2 separate regions of the Homo sapiens genome follow, and region 1 is linked to region 2. The links come from fine-mapping of genetic effects on gene expression. A gene starts in region 2. The other region holds a variant in brackets. All regions are shown on one strand. Distances are between the middles of the regions.

Region 1 (5,378 bases), 370 kb after region 2:
TTAACCGAGGGGATCTGTAAACACCTTTCTAAACTAAATTATGCAGAGTTTCTGTGAGATTTCTGTAGATCAGCATCAGGGTCTGGGGGCCCCTACAGGATGGTTGAAATGGAAATGAGCCCCGATCCGTCTTTTGGGGTCAAAGGGGTCATCCTGTCAGCTGAACTCCTTCCTCTTCACTTTTCACTGGTAGAATTTCAGAAAACTAAAAATTGTAGATAATAAAAAGGTTTAAAAGTAGCAATAAAACAATAAAAAAGAACAGTTAAATAAAGATAAAATGATACAAGAAACTAGGTTACATAAATGAACCCAACCCCTCCCTGCCACCAAAAAAAAAAAAAAAAAAAAAAAAAAAAGCAGAAGGCAGCAAGCAAACCATGAGGTAAGAACAACTAAGATAAAGGAAAATCTGAAACTAAAGGTCAGAGAGAATAAAAGAATAATCCAAACAAGCTAAAGTGATAGAAAAGAGAGTAAACAATGATTTCAAAGTCCAGGAGGTTAACTAGTCAATATTGACTAAATTAAAAATCAGTAGCACAAGTTCCAAAGATCAACTGAGAGAGTCTCTTTAGCTAAGGCCCAAAAGCCGCAAATAAGTTTTTTCTTCTGTGGCCTGGGATCCACGGGCAGCTGTCCCCTCAGCAGGTTAGGGGCCTGACTTTCACTCCGCACCTCTTCTCTCTGATTCTGGTATCTTCTCTCCTGGGTTCAGTTGCAGACAGGCTCCTGAGTCTCTACCACAGGAATGTCTGTGCTAGCCATCTTTCTCAGCTGTGACTCTACCCTCTGGCTGTTACTGATAGAGGAGAGGGAAGCACTTGGCCCAAGTTGGATCAATCAGAGTCTCTTTTTTGAAATCTGGATTTGTTATCAAGACTCACTCATTTAGGGATGGCCTCTTTAATCATAATATTAAATAATTAATATTTGTTGAAGATTTATGTGGTGAACATTGATCTTTATATGTGTTTTCCAACTAAATTTTTAAGAACCTTATGAAATCAGTATTATTATTGAAGAGGAAACTGAGGCCCAAGAGGTTAAATGACTTTCCCAGTGTCACACAGCCTGTAGATGGTAGAATTAGGATTTAAACTCACCTCTGTCTGACTCTGGAGCCTGTTCTTAGCCTCATGTAATAGTGCCTCTTTTGAAGAAAGGAGATATAAACTTGGAAACTGTGGGATCACTGTCTTTTGTCCACCACGTGAACAGAGAGCAAAGAATGAATTGACGTTTAAATATATAGAGGAGCTGCAATGGACTGAATGTTTATGTCCTCCTAAAATTCATATGTTAAAATCGTAACCTCAAGATGATGTTATTTGAAGGTGGGGCCTCTGGGATATGATTATGTCATTACAGTGGAGCCCTCCCTAATGGGATAAGTGCCCTTATAAAAGGGACCCCAGAGAAACCCCTTGTCCCTTACCCCATGTGAAATTACAGCTATCTATGAAAAAGGGAGTGCTCACCAGACATCAAATCTGCAATGCCTTGACCTGGGATTCTTAACCTCCAGAACTGTGAGAAATAAATTACTGTTGTTTATAAGCCACCCAGTCTGTGGTATTTTGTCATAGCAGCCTGAATGGACTAAGATAGCAATCAAGATGAGAAAGGGAAATTCCTAAGCTTCTCCTTTGAGTTTGGGCTCCGTTTCTACTACCACGCATTGTGAGCCACCCCTGCTTTTCCATAATATATTCCTTCCCACATTTTTTTTTTTTTTTGAGATGGAGTTTTGCTCTTGTTGCCCAGGCTGGAGTGCAATGACATGATCTTGGCTCACTGCAACCTCTGACTCCTGGGTTCAAGCGATTCTCCTGCCTCAGCCTCGCAAGTAGCTGAGATTACAGGCATGTGTCACCATGCCTGGCTAATTTTGTATTTTTAACAGAGACAGGCTTTGTGCATGTTGGTCAAGCTGATCTCAAACTCCCGACCTCAGGTGATCCACCCGCCTCAGCCTCCCAAAGTGCTGGGAATACAGGCATAAGCCACCACACCTGGTATTTCCCCTTTTTGTTTTAAACTAATTCAGTTATATTTCTGGAACTTGCAACCACGAATCCTAACTAGTATTGATGTGAGTTATGGAGGACCTCAAAGCTCCAAGCTTCCCTTATAAGCCAGGCTTCTTTTGATTGCTAAAAAATAGTGGCCTCTTGGATTTGGCTCTCGATCTTTTTTCTCTGCTACCCACTTTCTAAACTGTAGCTTCTTTGAGTACAAGGATAATTAATAGGTCTTTTTTGTGCTCCTAAAACACTAGATGTTTTGCAAATGCTAGGTCTCAATAAATTCTTGTTTAGATAAGTTAATTCATATGATTATGTATTTCCTTACACAAACGTGACACCTTCCTAAAGTAAACTTGGGAATGATTAAAAGGCTATCTTTCTAGAATGAAAAGGTCACATGTTACATGATTTTATTT[A/G]TATAAAATATCCAGAATAGGTACATCTATAGAGACTGAAAACAAACATTTGCCAGGGACTGGAGAGAGGGGAGAATGGAGGAACTGCACAATGGGTCCAGGGTTGTATTTCGAGGTAACGAAGATGTTTTGCAACTATATAGAGGTCATGATTATACAACACGTGAATGTAATAAATCGGTCTGAATTGTTCAGTTTATAATGGTTGATTTTTGTTATGTGAATTTCATCTCAATTATAAAAATATTAACAAATTTCTATTTTCTGAAAAAAAAGTTACCTTCCATGTAGGTGGTAATCATCTGGGCTTGAGCTTATTGGTTTGAGGATGGTAGGTCAATTCTGGGCATGGGAGCAGGGCACTCCCTGACCATTGTCATGTTACAATGATTCCTTCATCTGAAATATAGGAGTCAGAGAACTCTTCACAAGAAGAGCATGGCACAGCAAGGCTTACTTTGTTCTATTCCCACAAGATAATCTATGTGAATTATAACCAAGGATTCGAAGAGAATGAGGCTGTTCTTACAGGATTCGTGAAGTCTCTAGAAGTTTTATGGGTTTGCTATTTTGTAATATCTCTATTGGCTAGTCAAAGCACACCTCATAGTTCCCTAAGTGGGAAAGGAAATATACATGTTTTTGTCACCACTGGAAATCATCCGAGATATAAAATGGGAGGTAAGTTGACGTCAAGGAAGGATCCAATTGTGTGTTCAATGCTTGAAAATGGCAATCTTCTGTCTATTGGCCCTTCTAGGATGAAGATAGCCCGAAAACTTGCCTGGAAGTTTAACAACAACAGAGGAGAGCTCCTTTATCATCAAAAGCCAAGAAAGCAATGCAGGTGATGACTTAATGTCATCTTACATAAAATATAAAGAGACTTTCTAGGAAAACCCTACTTTTGGATGCTTGTCTCTTAGAGTTCTAAACTTTTCACCCATTTAATTATAATAGGAATTATTTATTACTTTTTGAAACTTATGTGGAAAAAGGACCATCCCTGATTTGGGGACCAAAATTCTCCTACAGTTATTCCCTTGTTAGTGTTCTTGGAAATTCCTTATTTACAAAGTTCAGGTGGCTTCTAATTTCTGGCCAAGCTCAGATTTATGAAAGAAAATAATCAAGATGAAGCATAGATTCTTAGAAATAGAAAGCATGCAACTTCCTTCTTTTTGGGAAAGGATCCAGAAAATGAGGTTCAGAGAGGTTGACAGGCTTTTGCTGGAGCAGAAGAGAAATAATGGCCAGAAATGTCCACTTTGTGGGTCTTGATGCCACAATGCCCTAGTAGATCATGGAGCCCAGAACTTGGGTCTCTTGGTACTAGATTTTTTTTGCCTGTTTTAATTGGGAGGAAATGAAAATATTTGAGAGGCTTAATGTCATCTTTACTATTTTAAAAAGCACAGTTTTGTGCCCACAATTCAACAATATTCATCAGATCATAGACCCAAGGAGCTTTGAAATCGTTTCAGTGTTCACCCTGCCCAATGCTTTGTCTGTAATATCACTTCTCACATGCTGTTTCTTCTAAGAGGTTGTCTGGTCTCTGCTTTAACCTTTGGAGGGACAGGAAACTCATCACCTCTTGAAGTAACACATTTTATTTGCATGTGTTTGTGTTTATATTCTCTCTCTCTTTGTTTCTGTTTCTCTCTATAGAGTGCCTATATTTCATAGTCTGCTTATGCACATATTTCATAGTCTGCTTTTTTGCAATTGACATCCCACACATACTTTTCATATTGATACAAAGTCTTAATATGGTTGATATGGTTTGGCTTTGTCCCCACCCCAAATCTCATCTTGTGGGAGGAACCCAGTAGGGGGTAATTGAATCCTGGGAGCAGGTCTTTCCTGTGCTATTCTTGTGATAGTGAATAAGTCTCATGAGATCTGATGGTTTTAAAAAGGGGAGTTTTTCTGCAGAAGCCTTCTTCTCTTGCTTGCCATCATGTGAGACATGCCTTTCACCTTCTGCCATGATTGTGAGGCTTTCTCAGCCACGTGGAACTGTGAGTTCTCCATTAAACCTCTTTCCTTTGTAAATTGCCCAGGCTTGGGTATGTCTGTATTAGCAGTGTGAAAATGGACGAATACAGTGGTAATTGCAAGTGGCTTCATATACGATATAATTTCCCTAATAAAAATTTATGCAAACATGACTTAAAAGTTTTTACTATTATAAGTAGAATTCAATACTATTTTGGTTTGGGAAAGTTTGGTTATTAGATCATAAAGAATTTAAGATTTAACTTTTACTCTTTGGCTTTAAATGTATACTCCAGAGTAACATTGAATAAATCAAATCTGTCTTCCACCAGACAGTTCTTTTCAGTGTTTTTAAAAAAGCTATCATGTTCCTCTTAAAATGTGTCTCTTCCAAGGTAAACATCCTCAGCTCTTTCCATCATTCCTTACAAGTTGTGGTTTCCAGACCCTTCACAAGATTGTTTGTTCTCCTCTGGATGGGCTCCAATTTGTCAAAGTTCTTTGTAAAATATGGTGCCAGAATTAATTACTGTAAGAACAATAACCGTAATAATAATAACCACCATTTATTGACTGCACACAATGTTCCAGGAACTGTGCTATAGACTTAGCTCTTTTAATCCTCACAAAACCCTCTAATATTGTATGTTATTATCTTTATATTTTTAGACAAGAAAACCAGTTTTAATACGTCAGCTGACTTATCCAAGGTCACACAGAAAGGAAGTGGCAAAGCTAGGATTAAAACATGCTCTGTGTTCTGAACCATTTTATAATGCTACAGAATTTCCTGGCTATGCAAAATTTAGGGCTGAGATATTAAATTTATGTGAGAATACCTTAAGATTTCATTATCTTGTCAAATGCTTTTCATACTTATGAAAAGTATGATAGAGCCCAGTTCTTCCAAACCAATTTATCCATTTGTCAA
Region 2 (5,378 bases):
ACTCACTGGCCTGGAATTGATAAAAACTGAAGGCTGTTTTTCACTATAGTTAATTCTAACCTATAAACTGGAGCAGTTCCATGTAGGAATTTGTTAAAACCTATTGTGTATGAATTACAGACTCCTCTGACCATCCGAGTGTTCTTTTTCAGTTTTTTTTTTTTTTTCCTATGACCTAAAATCCCCTCAGACTTAAACCTTTAGTGAACTACTCAGTAAATGGCTTTACTAGTAAGTGTTCCCTTGCCTGGTATGTTTATTATTTTTTAACTTCAGTGTTTTATTCTTCGGCAGTAAGCAGTTGGATATAAGTTGGGGGTATAAATTTGGGACTCTGGCATATAGATGTTATTAAAAGTGATGAGACTGGATATCAACAAGGGAATGAGTGTAGATAAAGAAGAGAGCCAAAGACAAAGACTTGGGGCATTCCAACATTAAAAGTTTGGAGAGAAGAGAAAGCACCTCATAGAGGAGACACTGGAGATGTAAAGGAAAACTGAGTGATGTCCTTGAAGCCAAGTGATAAACTTTATCCAAGAGAAGAAAATGAACTGTCCAGTGCTGCTGATAGATAACTTTATATTGCCAGCTGTAAAATGTACTTTCAATTAGCCATTTCAAATTTGTTTACCAAAGCAATGATTTTGTTGGCTAGTTTTCTAAACTTCAGTAACTTTTCAGTGACTTGTAGGTTTTCATTGCATATACAGCTGAATTTTTTTTTTTTTTTAAACAGGGTCTTGCTGCCACCCAGGCTTGTATAGTGGTGCGATCCTAGCTCCTGCAACCTTGAACTTCTGGGCTCAAACAGTCCTCCACCTCAGCCTCCCAAGTAGCTGGGGCTACATGGCGCATGCCACCACACCTGGCTAATTTTTTTTTTACATTTGTAGAGGGAGGCCTTGCCATGTAGCCCAGGTTGGTTTCAAACTCCTGGGCTCAAGGGATCCTCTCACCTCAGCCTCCTAGAGTGTTGGTATTACAGGTGTGAACCACCATGCCTGGCCCAAAAGTTGTTTTTTTTTTTTTTAAGTTATTTTCTGTAATGCATTTTCTGTGAATTTATTGTCTTAAAAATTGGCAAATATGGCCATTTTGACATATTTGCCAAATATGAGCATATGGCAACTATGCTCTTAATTTGTTAAGTCACCAACTGTTGGTGGTAACTGTTGAAATAACAAGAGCAAAGTTATCACCAATCTACGGGATCCTTACACTACTGATATTTTCAATAATGCACCGTAGTCAGACATTGTAGACTTAACCTCTGAGCTGCTCACAAAATTACTAAATCATTCTGAAATACGTAACTGCAAATTCTGGGCTTTAAAGTCTCTAGTTAAATGGGTGATTTTGAAAATTGGTGGCTGTTCAGACATTTTCAAATGAGAATAGAATGCATTTGTTTCAGACTGATAAACTGCAGAAGGTTAGATAACACCAAACACATTTGAGTTTCTCCTAAGAAAATGACTTGGGCCTCCAGATTACATCTCATTTTTTTTTTTTTTACCCTATCAAGTTTGTTTTTCCATATGAAATGTCTTTCCCAACTACACCTGCCCTTGGAGACTGTGAATAACAGACTTAAAGGAAGTATCCTTTCCAGATGAGCTGAAGAATGTCATCCTCTTAAAAGAATGAACAGCTGGTCATGTAGAAATTCTCTGGAATGCTCACTTGTCCTACAAAGGCAGGGGAGCAGAAAACATGTAGTTTTTTTGTTATTGGTATACATAATTGTAAATCTTCGAGATAATTTTACTAGAAGTCCACATAATTTTAATAATTGCCTTTCTCCTGAAAAGATTGCTAATAAATTAACAATGTGAAGGCTAGAAAGCTGGCCAAGCATAATCCGGTGGGACTCAGGATTGCTGGCTGGATTGTCCCGTTTGATCAGACATTGTTTCTTAGATGAATATTCAGGACGCCCTCGTGTATAAAAGTTGTCCTTTGTTCTGACTACCTTGGTATTAAGTTCGAATTTCTTACCATGACACACAAAGGATTCGATTCTTGCTTAGCTCTCTAAGCTCCTCTCACTTTCTCTTCCCCTCTTGAATTCTTTGCTCTTGCCACACAACTAGCAGATGAACTAATCTATCTGTTCCAACGTGGGCACAGTAGCAGCCGTAACTCTTACCTTGGCCCACTCTGACTTGTCCAGCCCTGGTTGAATTCTTCGTATCCCCGTGAGGGTCCGCACGTAGTTGGGGCTGTTTACTAAACGGATGAACTTCCCTACCGGGAGGCTAGGTCTCGGTTATGCCTTACTTCCCAGGAAGCGGCTTCTATAGGCATTGTTTAAATGTAGGAGTAGGAGGGAGCTGGGGGTATTGCATTCCCCAGGTCACAGATAAATGAGATTCCAAAACCAAGATCTGGCTAGGCCTTGGAAAGAGGGACCTGCGAGGCCGACCAGACGTTTGGAACTGCGCCTTGCAGTGTGGGATCTCAGCACCGGATATTACCCCGGTTTGTAGAGAGTTGAGTTACTGTTTTAAGAGACGTTGCAAACCGTACGGGTCAAGAAGAAAGCCGAAGACGGGTTAGCGCCTGCGGTCGGGGTCGAGAAAAGCAGGCGAGATGCGACCTGACGTGGGTCCGCCTCTCTCCACCCGTGGCAAGCCCGACAGTCGCACTATTGCTTTAACAATCGCCCTCTTTCCAAGAAGAGCTACTTAGTGACCGTGAGCGAATATGCGTGGGAAGACACGATGTCCTCTCGGCCTCTGTGCGCTCAGTTGTTTACCTAGGCGTCCGGGGGAGGCACACTCGCGGGACTCGCGGGACTCGGCCCCGGCCTCCCAGCTCGCCCAGGACACGACGCTGGTTCTGCGGGCTCTCGGAGCCCAGCGCGAATCCCCCGGGCTAATTCCCAAGAACCGAGAGGCAGCACTGCCTGGAGGCTGCCCCCGCCTCCGCGCCCCCGTCCTCACTTTCTGAGGCTGTTAGCAGAGAGTCCCGCGGGCCGGGGAGAAGCGGGACGCGGGGGATGGCCTCGCAGCGCCCTGTGAGCGTCGGCAGTAGTCAGGCAGCCAGGGCTCCTTGGGCGATCGCCCTGGGTAGAGGAGAGGAGTTTCCGGGGCTCGGGTCCGGGTCGCCTTCCAGGGGAACGAGCGCGGAAGCAAGTGGGCGGCGAGAGGCGGAGCAAGAGACGCTGGAGGGCGTGGACGCAGCGGGCTTTGGAAAGGCCCCAAGTTAATGAGGCGTGCGCCGGCTGCCGAGCGCCTCTTGGAGCTGGGCTTTCCCCCGCGGTGCGGGCGCCAGGAGCCGCCTTTTCCGCTGGGTGTCACTCGGGGGTGGGGAAGATGGCCCATTCAAAAGCGCCGCGAGGGGGCCCGGCCAGTGCCCTTCAGTGAGCGCTCGCAAGAGGACGGCAGAGGCCCGGCAGCTCGGAGCTCCGGGACCTTGTGGCGCATCAGGACGCGGCTGTCCCTCTGCCGGGACCCAGAGCCGCCGCCGCCGCTCTGCCTCCTGCGTGTTAGCCTCCTCTGCGCGCTCCGGGCAGGCGGCCGTGGGAGCCGCTGGGGCGAGGACGGCGCGAGGCTGCTGCTGCTGCCCCCGGCCCGCGCGGCTGGAAACGGAGAGGCCGAGCCAAGCGGCGGCCCCTCTTATGCTGGGAGGATGCTGGAGAGTAGCGGCTGCAAAGCGCTGAAGGAGGGCGTGCTGGAGAAGCGCAGCGACGGGTTGTTGCAGCTCTGGAAGAAAAAGTGTTGCATCCTCACCGAGGAAGGGCTGCTGCTTATCCCGCCCAAGCAGCTGCAACACCAGCAGCAGCAGCAGCAACAGCAGCAGCAGCAGCAGCAACAACAGCCCGGGCAGGGGCCGGCCGAGCCGTCCCAACCCAGTGGCCCCGCTGTCGCCAGCCTCGAGCCGCCGGTCAAGCTCAAGGAACTGCACTTCTCCAACATGAAGACCGTGGACTGTGTGGAGCGCAAGGGCAAGTACATGTACTTCACTGTGGTGATGGCAGAGGGCAAGGAGATCGACTTTCGGTGCCCGCAAGACCAGGGCTGGAACGCCGAGATCACGCTGCAGATGGTGCAGTACAAGAATCGTCAGGCCATCCTGGCGGTCAAATCCACGCGGCAGAAGCAGCAGCACCTGGTCCAGCAGCAGCCCCCCTCGCAGCCGCAGCCGCAGCCGCAGCTCCAGCCCCAACCCCAGCCTCAGCCTCAGCCGCAACCCCAGCCCCAATCACAACCCCAGCCTCAGCCCCAACCCAAGCCTCAGCCCCAGCAGCTCCACCCGTATCCGCATCCACATCCACATCCACACTCTCATCCTCACTCGCACCCACACCCTCACCCGCACCCGCATCCGCACCAAATACCGCACCCACACCCACAGCCGCACTCGCAGCCGCACGGGCACCGGCTTCTCCGCAGCACCTCCAACTCTGCCTGAAAGGGGCAGCTCCCGGGCAAGACAAGGTAAGGTCCCGGCACTCGCGCTCCCGAGGAGTGGGTCTCGGGGGTAGTGAGTTGGGAGGAGTAGGAAGCTTGTTCACAGGTTCGGCTCCTGTATGGAGAAATCAAAACTCATACCAAGTTTCTGGGGCAATGGAAGAAACAGAAACAAGCTGGGGCCAGGAGAGCTGGGCAGAGAGGGGAGGCTGGGGAGATCCGGGCCAGGCAGGGGGCCTCGCGGACCGCGCCCGCGCCCGCGCCCATCACGACCGTCCTTGTCCCGTGGTGCGTCCCCCAGCCCCACTTGACTATATGTTTGGGCAGTTGAGGGAAACACCACGGTGTCTTTCTGAGCCCGCTTTGTCAGGCGGACTGGCCCGAACAGAACTGGTCTCGGAGGGTTCTTAGCCACCTACTTCACTCGGTGTCATTTCTTTCCAGGTTTTGAGGACTTGAGGAAGTGGGACGAGCACATTTCTATTGTCTTCACTTGGATCAAAAGCAAAACAGTCTCTCCGCCCCGCACCAGATCAAGTAGTTTGGACATCACCCTACTGAAAACTTGCGATTCTTCTTAGTTTTCTGCATACTTTTCATCACGATGCAGGAAACGATTTCGAGTCAAGAAGACTTTTATTTATGAACCTTTGAAAGGATCGTCTTGTATGGTGAATTTTCTAGGAGCGATGATGTACTGTAATTTTATTTTAATGTATTTTGATTTATGATTATTTATTAGTTTTTTTTTAAATGCTTGTTCTAAGACATTTCTGAATGTAGACCATTTTCCAAAAAGGAAACTTTATTTTCAAAAACCTAATCCGTAGTAATTCCTAATCTTGGAGAATAAAAAAGGGCGGTGGAGGGGAAAACATTAAGAATTTATTCATTATTTCTCGAGTACTTTCAGAAAGTCTGACACTTTCATTGTTGTGCCAGCTGGTTGAAATTAAAACT

What was found. PIP is the estimated chance that this variant, and not a neighbour inherited with it, causes the effect. A credible set is the group of variants that fine-mapping cannot tell apart.
Region 1: its variant is the best candidate, but not a certain one, in a credible set for the expression of PHLDA1 in testis (GTEx, PIP 0.57).

What each region holds. Positions count from the first base shown.
Region 1 is chr12:75,661,635-75,667,012 of GRCh38, reverse strand. It overlaps LOC105369844 (a long non-coding RNA gene), which reads left to right. Exons shown (of 16, transcript XR_007063375.1): 7 at 3,207-3,293. Among named protein-coding and RNA genes, the nearest start is that of KRR1, 150 kb to the right of the region's middle. The variant A/G (reference allele first, on the strand shown) is at 2,447.
Region 2 is chr12:76,029,577-76,034,954 of GRCh38, reverse strand. PHLDA1 (pleckstrin homology like domain family A member 1) reads left to right here and starts at 3,179. Exons shown (of 2, transcript NM_007350.3): 1 at 3,179-4,445; 2 at 4,863-5,378. The coding sequence starts at 3,214. The coding sequence ends at 4,419. It overlaps PHLDA1-AS1 (PHLDA1 antisense RNA 1), which reads right to left and starts at 4,461. Exons shown (of 2, transcript NR_186034.1): 1 at 4,361-4,461; 2 at 3,577-4,044. PHLDA1-DT (PHLDA1 divergent transcript) reads right to left here and starts at 3,142. Exons shown (of 2, transcript NR_185978.1): 1 at 2,153-3,142; 2 at 566-1,691. RefSeq lists an enhancer at 3,024-3,273 and a silencer at 3,494-3,643.